2 linked regions of the Homo sapiens genome follow. Changing the gene in region 2 together with the main gene of any one other region gives a genetic interaction. Each region holds a gene or a part of one and is shown on either strand. Other genes may lie near its edges. The genes, in order: PBRM1 and NUP160.

Region 1 (3,828 bases), on a different chromosome or scaffold from region 2:
GCCTCCCAAAGTGCTGGGATTACAGGTGTGAGCCACTGTGTCCGGCCTTGGAAAGGTTTTAAATATCTTTTGGGGTCATAGAAATGCTAATACTTGTAGGAAAGCAATAAAAATAAAACTTACCAAGGGAAGACACCCCTGAAACACTTTTTTTTTCTTCTTGAGACACAGTCTCACTCTGCTGCCCAGGCTGGAGTACAGTGGCACGATCATGGCTCACTACAGTCTCAATCTCCTGGCTCAAGCAATCCTCCCACCTCAACCTCTCGAGTAGCTGGGACTATAGGCATATGTCACCAAGCTTGGCTGATTTTTTAAATTTTATTTTAAGTAGAGCTAAGGAAGGTCTTGCTATATTGTCCAGACTGGTCTCAAGCTCCTGAGTGCAAGCCATCCTCCCACCTTGGGCTCCAAAAGTGCTGGGATTACAGGTGTGAGCCACTGTACCTGGCCCCTAAAACATAATTTTATGTTTGTTTTCTGAATGAAGATATTTGAATTCTGTTCACTTGAAATTAAAGTTCATTTTATAATAGTGTACAATTTTAAGTATAAAAAGTGAAAATTTCTGTAAATTAAAAGTAAAAAATTTTTGTAAAATTTTTGTAAATACCTTTCATGGTATACTAAAAGGGCAGATCATAATTCCATCATATCGCATGGTTTAGAAATGAACATTCTGTACAAGAGTCACTAAACACCTAGTATATGCTTTTGTTTATTCAAAGCATTATAAAGAATTTATTAGTCTACGAGGTCAGGTATTCATTGAATGTGCAGGAACATAAACGCAAGCTGGAAAAAGAACTCTAAATTCCCCTCAATTGGTAATCTTTTTATATAAGGCAGACATTCAGCAAAAGGAAATAATTAAGAATACAGGAGGCTCTTAATGCTTCCCTTGTTCATCTTCCCACAGGTCTCTTTTACCTGCAAGGGGATCAGAGTGTTTAGTCTGGGAATACTGCCAGCAGTTTAGGAAAGCCAGCAGCCAACTGGCATGAGTCAGCACTGTGCTGTTACTAAATACTGTTGATGGACAAACTATTGTCACCTGAGTGAATTTTTCTCTTGTTACGTCTCACTGTTCAGATTCCTTCTATTTTAGCCTGTGAAGTCCTAGGTGATGTTGGGTAGCAGTGGTGGGTAGGGGTAGGGGTAAATGGTGATGAAGCATGAAGACTCTTAGAGATCAACATGGAAATCTACGGTATGTAGACTTCATTGAATTTATGAACTAATATTTCTGGGATGCCTAGCTTTGTTACTGATAATATAGTAGATAAAGGCATAGTTTATCATTCACTAAATTGATGCATCTCCATCAATTCTTATTAAGTACTTATTCTTAATAAGTACTATAAGCAATCACAATACTATCTTTGTTCACAAAGTTAAGAATGGCTCCCCGTATGTTTTTCTTTAAAAAATTTTTCCTAACTACTAAATTACCAGGGATCCCTTTTGTTTTTCAACAAAGCTCTGGGCATGAGGGTAAAACTGTGTGCATCACTATCTCATAAAAATACACCTTGGACTCTATCTTCCAGGCCTCAAAAGCAAAAAACAACCATGTCAACAATGGGAGAATGAAAAGAGCTAATTTCCTAGAGATACAAATCTTAATTCTTAAAATAAACATTTCATCTATAAGACATAAACGAAGTTCCTAATAATCTAGAAGACAAATACTCATTGAAAGACTCACAGAACTAACACCAAGATGTAATGGGGCTAAGCAGGGAGGAGAGGAAGGGAGGGGTATTAGACTTAAGGACTACTTAAGCCAAGAACAAGAACAGAAAGAAGTCTAAGCTACATGAAAGCAGAGTTTGTTTTGCCCACTGGTGTATTACATGCATCTAGAATATGCTCATTAAGTAGCCTCTCAATAAATATGTGTTGAATAAATGAGTAACTCCAAGAGTTTTTGACTGCAAGATGTCCCTCCATCCTTCTCTTTATTTCTACTCAATTGCTGAAGAACCATATTATTAAGGACCATTTCTTAAAAGTGTCACACATGGGCCTCACCAAACTGGCCCCAACTCTATCCCTGTCTCTTAAACATATCATATTCATTTCCTAACTCCATTTCTTTGCTCATAACATTCATCTTATTTGAAATATCCTCTGGCCTATTCATTTGAACCCTACCTATCATCCCATGCCTTTTAAGGAGAACTGTGGCCCACAGAGTTCCTTACATCACCATCTTTACTAAATATAAGGTTGTGGCATGTTGTCTCATGTGTGGAATTATTTTTCCCTTAAGCGTAAGTCCTGGCCCATCCATCAGACTTCAAGCTTTTAGAGCACAGAGCTCAAGGCTTATCATCTATGGCCGTGCTCCATGACTTGTCCTGGTAACTGGCTCAGGAGTAGCCCTCTGCAGTGGAGAGCAAGACAAGTCACATCATTTACTAGTTGTAAGACTATGGGTAACTTTTCTCTGCCTATGCCTCTAATTCTTTCACATGCAAACTGAAAAGATTATCACTTATCTAGAATGGCTATCATAAGGGTTAGAGATTGCCTTCATAAAGTGCTTAGCATGGTGCTTTACGAAGAGCTGGTGCTTAACACAAGCAGCAAATGTTACTATGTTTTTTTTCTTTTATTTGCAAAGACACTGAAAGCAAACATTACTACTTGCTTTTCTTTAAAGGTTCAGAGCAAATTCTGATTTCATAGATTCCCCAGCTGGCATTACACTGCCTGAAGGTCTAGTTCTAAACATGATAGGCTGTAAGCTCCAGGAAGGTAAGGTTTGTATCTTTTTTTTTTTTATATTTTTCCAACTGTCTCTAAGTGCACATATAAAATACACTGTAATTGCTGAATTTAATAGTCAAGTCTGCTATTGACATGTAGCAACGATATATCACAGATAAAAATTAGAAGGAAATTTAAGTTTAAAGTAAATCTAAATTTGATTGCTTCTTTTAGAACATTTAATGTCTTCAGCAAGCTCTTAAGGTGAGAAACCTGAGATTAAAAAAAAAAAAGAAACCCTCTGAGGTACTTAAAATGGTGATCAAATTTCTATCAGTCTAACCTCAGGACAACACCTTAGAGCTATTTTATTTAAAGCATTCGTGCACTGAAGCCAAACCTTAAAAGAAAAACGCTGTTACTATTTCCAATTAGAAACATTTATCTTTTTAAAAAACACATTCTATGAAAGGCTGTATTTTAAGTTTATGCTTTTCAAGAGATTTTCAATTTTGTCTTCCTCCTCACTGGCCTTAAACTAGATGACTTAGTGGTGTGCCTTCTCTCCCCCACAGAATATACTCACTCTTAAGAAGTTCTGGCTGATTAGAATTCAGAATAGCATGCTACCAACTACAAATCATGTATGTAAGTGGAAATAGTACATCAAAGCAATATTCTTTCATCTGTTTTGTATTAAATAGCACATATCCTCAAAATAAAAATGGCTTTGAAAACATACCGATTCATCCTTCTTGCTCGTTCCAATACTTCAAACATATGCTCTTGAAATAAATCAAGCCGACGGTAGCGATTATTTTCAACATTCTTCCTAATTATGTCAAATGTAAGGGGTGGTTTGTTAGGAAAGTTGGGATCCACAGCAGGAATTTCTGCTAAAGAATCGCTGTAGCATCTTCCCTCATCATCCTGATGACTCATGACTGACACAAAAAGATTGTGGATAAGCTCTTGAATCAGCAAAGTCACATTTGGGACATGAGAGTCCTCATCTCCCTCCAGGTCTCTGCGTGTTTCAAGCAGGACTTTGTGTAGAACAAGAGCATCTTTGTAGATCAAAGACTCCGGCTCATTGTATGTACAGGCATTATT
Region 2 (3,828 bases):
GGTGGGTGGATCACTTGAGGTTAGGAGTTCCGAGACCAGCCTGGCCAACATGGTGAAGCCCCATCTCTACCAAAAATATTAAAAAATTAGCTGGATGTGGTGGCAGGTGCCTGTAATCCCAGCTACTCAGGAGGCTGAGGCAGGAGAATCACTTGAACCCGGGAGGCGGAGGCTGCAGTGAGGGAGTAAGTGGAGGCTGCATCACTGCACTCCAGCTTGGGCAACAGAGCAAAACTCAGTTAAAAAAAAAAAAAAATATATATATATATATATATATATATATATATATATATATATATATATATATATGCGCCTATACCGATGTTCCTCAACTTATGGTGGGTTTGTTTTCCAATAAACCCACTATCAGTTGAAAATATCATAGGTTGAAAATACATATAATACATCTAACCTAATGAACATCACGGCTTAGCCTAGCCTACTTAACCATGCTCAGGACACTTAACGTTAACCTATAAAGTTGGGCAAAATCATCTAACAGAAAGCCTACTTTATAATACACTGTTGAATATCTTGTGTAATTTATTGAATACTGTACTGCAACTGAAAAACTGAACGGTTGTATGAGTATTTTATTTATTTATTATTTATTTATTTATTTATTTTTGAGATGGAGTCTCGCTCTGTTGCCCAGGCTGGAGTGCAGTGGCATGATCTCGGCTCACTGCAACCTCTGCCTCCCAGGTTCAAGCGATTCTCCTGCCTCAGCCTCCTGAGTAGCTGGGATTACAGGTACGTGCCACTGCATCTGGCTAATTTCTGTATTTTTAGTAGAGACGGGGCTTTGCCATGTTGGCCAAACTGGTTTCGAACTCCTGACCTCAGGTGATCTGTCTGCCTCGGCCTCCCAAAGTGCTGGGATTATAGGCATGAGTCACTGTGCCCGGCCATCAGTATTTTAAAGTATGGTTTCTCATAAATGTTCATCACTTTCAAACCACTGTAAAGTTGAAAAATCGTAAGTCAAACCATTGTAAATTGGGGACCATTTGTATATGCCTACCTCAATTCCGAAGTATTGATGTCCTTTTCCCAATACAGCATCCACATATTCTGACACCAAATCCACAGCTTCTTCTAAAAGGTCATAGTTTAAGTATAAACGAAGCAATTCAGCAGCATCAACCTTCTGTGAAAAGTCAGTGATTAAGAATATGTACCTATTTCCCTCCTACTTGAGTACTGACCAAAGAATGTTGAGTGGCTGATTCCCTAACATTTGTATTTCTCAATATAATTAAACCAGTGGCTTGGTTTACTCATCTGTATCTTAGGATAAGAGCTGATAACAAATCTGGGGAGTTAGGAAAAAAAAAAAGTTAAATCCCTAAGAGCCGTTACCTCTAGGCAGTTTGGGAGGCCCTTATCTGTTAAATAGCCTTCTTCCCCTGTTTTATGACCTAAGACATATTTTAACTTCTCTCCACTTCAGTTTCCACAGTTGTAAAGTCAACAAACTTTTCCTGAACACTAAAGTGACAATATATTCACATAATAAGAAATATATGAATGACAAATGCAAAAGAAGTTCAAAGAATCACCAGCTTTAAATCTGAAGTCTCTATTTGGAAGAGCTCTATTAATTAAGCATGCTTTCTATATTCCCATTTGATCACAATCTTACCTTTACCATCTTAGCTGGCTTCCCTACTTTCCTATTTATTTATTTTTTTTGAGACAGAGTCTTGCTCTGTCGCCCAGGCTTGGGGGCAGTGGTGCAACCTCAGATCACTGTAACCTCTGCCTCCAGAGTAGCTGAGATTACAGGCACGCACCATCACATCCAGATAATTTTTGTATTTTTAGTGGAGATGGGGTTTCACCATGTTGGCCAGGCTGGTCTCGAATTCCTGACCTCAGGTGATCTGCCTGCCTTGGCCTCCCAAAGCGCTGGGTTTACAGGCGTGAGTCACCGTGCCCGGCCTCCTTTCTACCTTAAAAAAAAAACAAAAACAAAAACAAAAAAAACAAAACAAAACAAAACAAAAAAAACCAAAAAAAACTTTCCTGATTTTAAGCTTTAGATTTTCTCTTTCCTTATCCTACTAACGGTGGTTCAGATGCAGAAGTTCTCAAACTTTAGCATGCATCAAAATCAAATTAGGAGCTTCTTAAAATGTAGATTTCTGGCTCCTAGCCTGAGATAATCTGATTCTGTAAGTCTAGGATGAGGAATCTGTATTTTGAAGAAGACTGCCATCTGAATAATTCTGATGCAGACAGTCTAAGAACCCGTTTTTGATTTTTAATAGGTGAAACAGTGGGAGTGGAGAAGGAACCAATCGGAAACTGGTTGTGCTCAATTAGTTGTAAACAACACGGCACTCAGACCAGCCATAGTGTTATATTATTTGAAAAGTACTCCACCGACTCCTGTGACTTTTTTGAGGTATGAAGAGTAAATCCTGTGTCATGCATATGCTCATTGTTCTAAATATAAACTCATTGTTCAGTGAATATAATAGGAGTCATTAACCTAATTACTAACCTATGAAACTTCAAATCTAAATACACAGTAGTACTGTGGAAATGAATTTGAATTGTTCTTATGGTTTTAGCTATGATGAAAAGCTTCCCAAAGTACGTAAGTCAATATGTTCCCATAAGTTATCACCCCATCTTTTTCTTTTTCTTTATATATTTTTAAATTTAAATAGAGATGGGGTCTCCCTGTGTTGCCCAAGCTGGTCTCAAACTCCTGGGCTCAAGCCATCCTCCCCTGTTGGCCTACCAATGTGCGGGCATGACAGGTATGAGCCACTGCAATCAGTCCATATTTTTAATCATCTCATGAAGTTATCCAGAATGATAAAGAGTGGGTTCTTACTCTGTACAAGTTATAATCCGTTTACCTTGTAACTGTTTATAAGCCAATTAGGCAGAGGCACTCCATGAGACAAGAGCTTGTTGATTACACAGTGGTGATACAAGTTATTCTGGACTTTGTACCTCTCCAGGTAAGTGGATAATAGTCGCCATGCTTCATCTGTAGCACTTGAAAAAAACAAAAATGACTAATGAGTTTCAGATTCTTAATAGCTATTTAGAGTACCATTCAAAGCATGTATTTACAAGGAAAACTTTTTTTTCAGACAGGGTCTTGCTCTGTCACCCAGGCTAGAGTGGAGTGGTGTGATCTCAGCTCACTGCAGCCTCAGCCCCAGATTCTCCCATTTCAGCTTCCTAAATAGCTGGGAATACAGGCATGCACCACTATGCCCAGCTAATTTTGTTTATGTTTTGTAGAGACAAGGACTTGCTATGTTGTCCACGCTGGTATTAAACTCCAGAGCTAAAGTGATCCTCTGACCTTGTCCTCCCTAAGTGTTGGGATTACAGGCAGGAGTCACCATGCCCAGCCTTACAAGGAAAACTTTAGAAATTAACAACTGAATCAATAATATAGCTAAATGGGAACAAATATTATTTGGGCTAATGTGACTTATGGGGATAGCACTAGAAACTAGATGTCTTGGGTTCGTATATTCCTCTCCCACTAACGTATTTAGTATTTAGTAAACAAACATATTTAGTAAATGAACGTTATTTGTTTGGCTATTAATGCATAATTCATTTAACTCCTTTGTTTCTGCATTTCTAAAACAAGAAACTGGTTCAGAACACTGGTTCTCAAACCTGATCAAGCATTAGAATCATGCAGAAGTTCTAACTTAGAAGACTAGGGTGATTTCTCATAATCTGTATTTTAATAAGTTATTCTGATGTGCTAATTTAGGGGTTGAAAACTAATGTCAGAGAACTTCCAAATTCTAAAGTGCTATCACTCTAAAGTGCTAAGCTGTATAA

The links.
Region 1: changes in NUP160 (region 2) and PBRM1 together harm fitness more than expected from each alone (negative genetic interaction), as found in Homo sapiens cells (one large-scale study listed by BioGRID).

The regions. Positions count from the first base shown.
Region 1 is NC_000003.12:52,605,856-52,609,683, forward strand, and holds part of PBRM1 (protein polybromo-1), read right to left. Parts: coding exon 3,458-3,828; intron 1-3,457. UniProt on the Homo sapiens protein: Involved in transcriptional activation and repression of select genes by chromatin remodeling (alteration of DNA-nucleosome topology). Required for the stability of the SWI/SNF chromatin remodeling complex SWI/SNF-B (PBAF).
Region 2 is NC_000011.10:47,782,049-47,785,876, forward strand, and holds part of NUP160 (nuclear pore complex protein Nup160), read right to left. Parts: intron 3,016-3,828; coding exon 2,874-3,015; intron 1,151-2,873; coding exon 1,025-1,150; intron 1-1,024. UniProt on the Homo sapiens protein: Functions as a component of the nuclear pore complex (NPC). Involved in poly(A)+ RNA transport.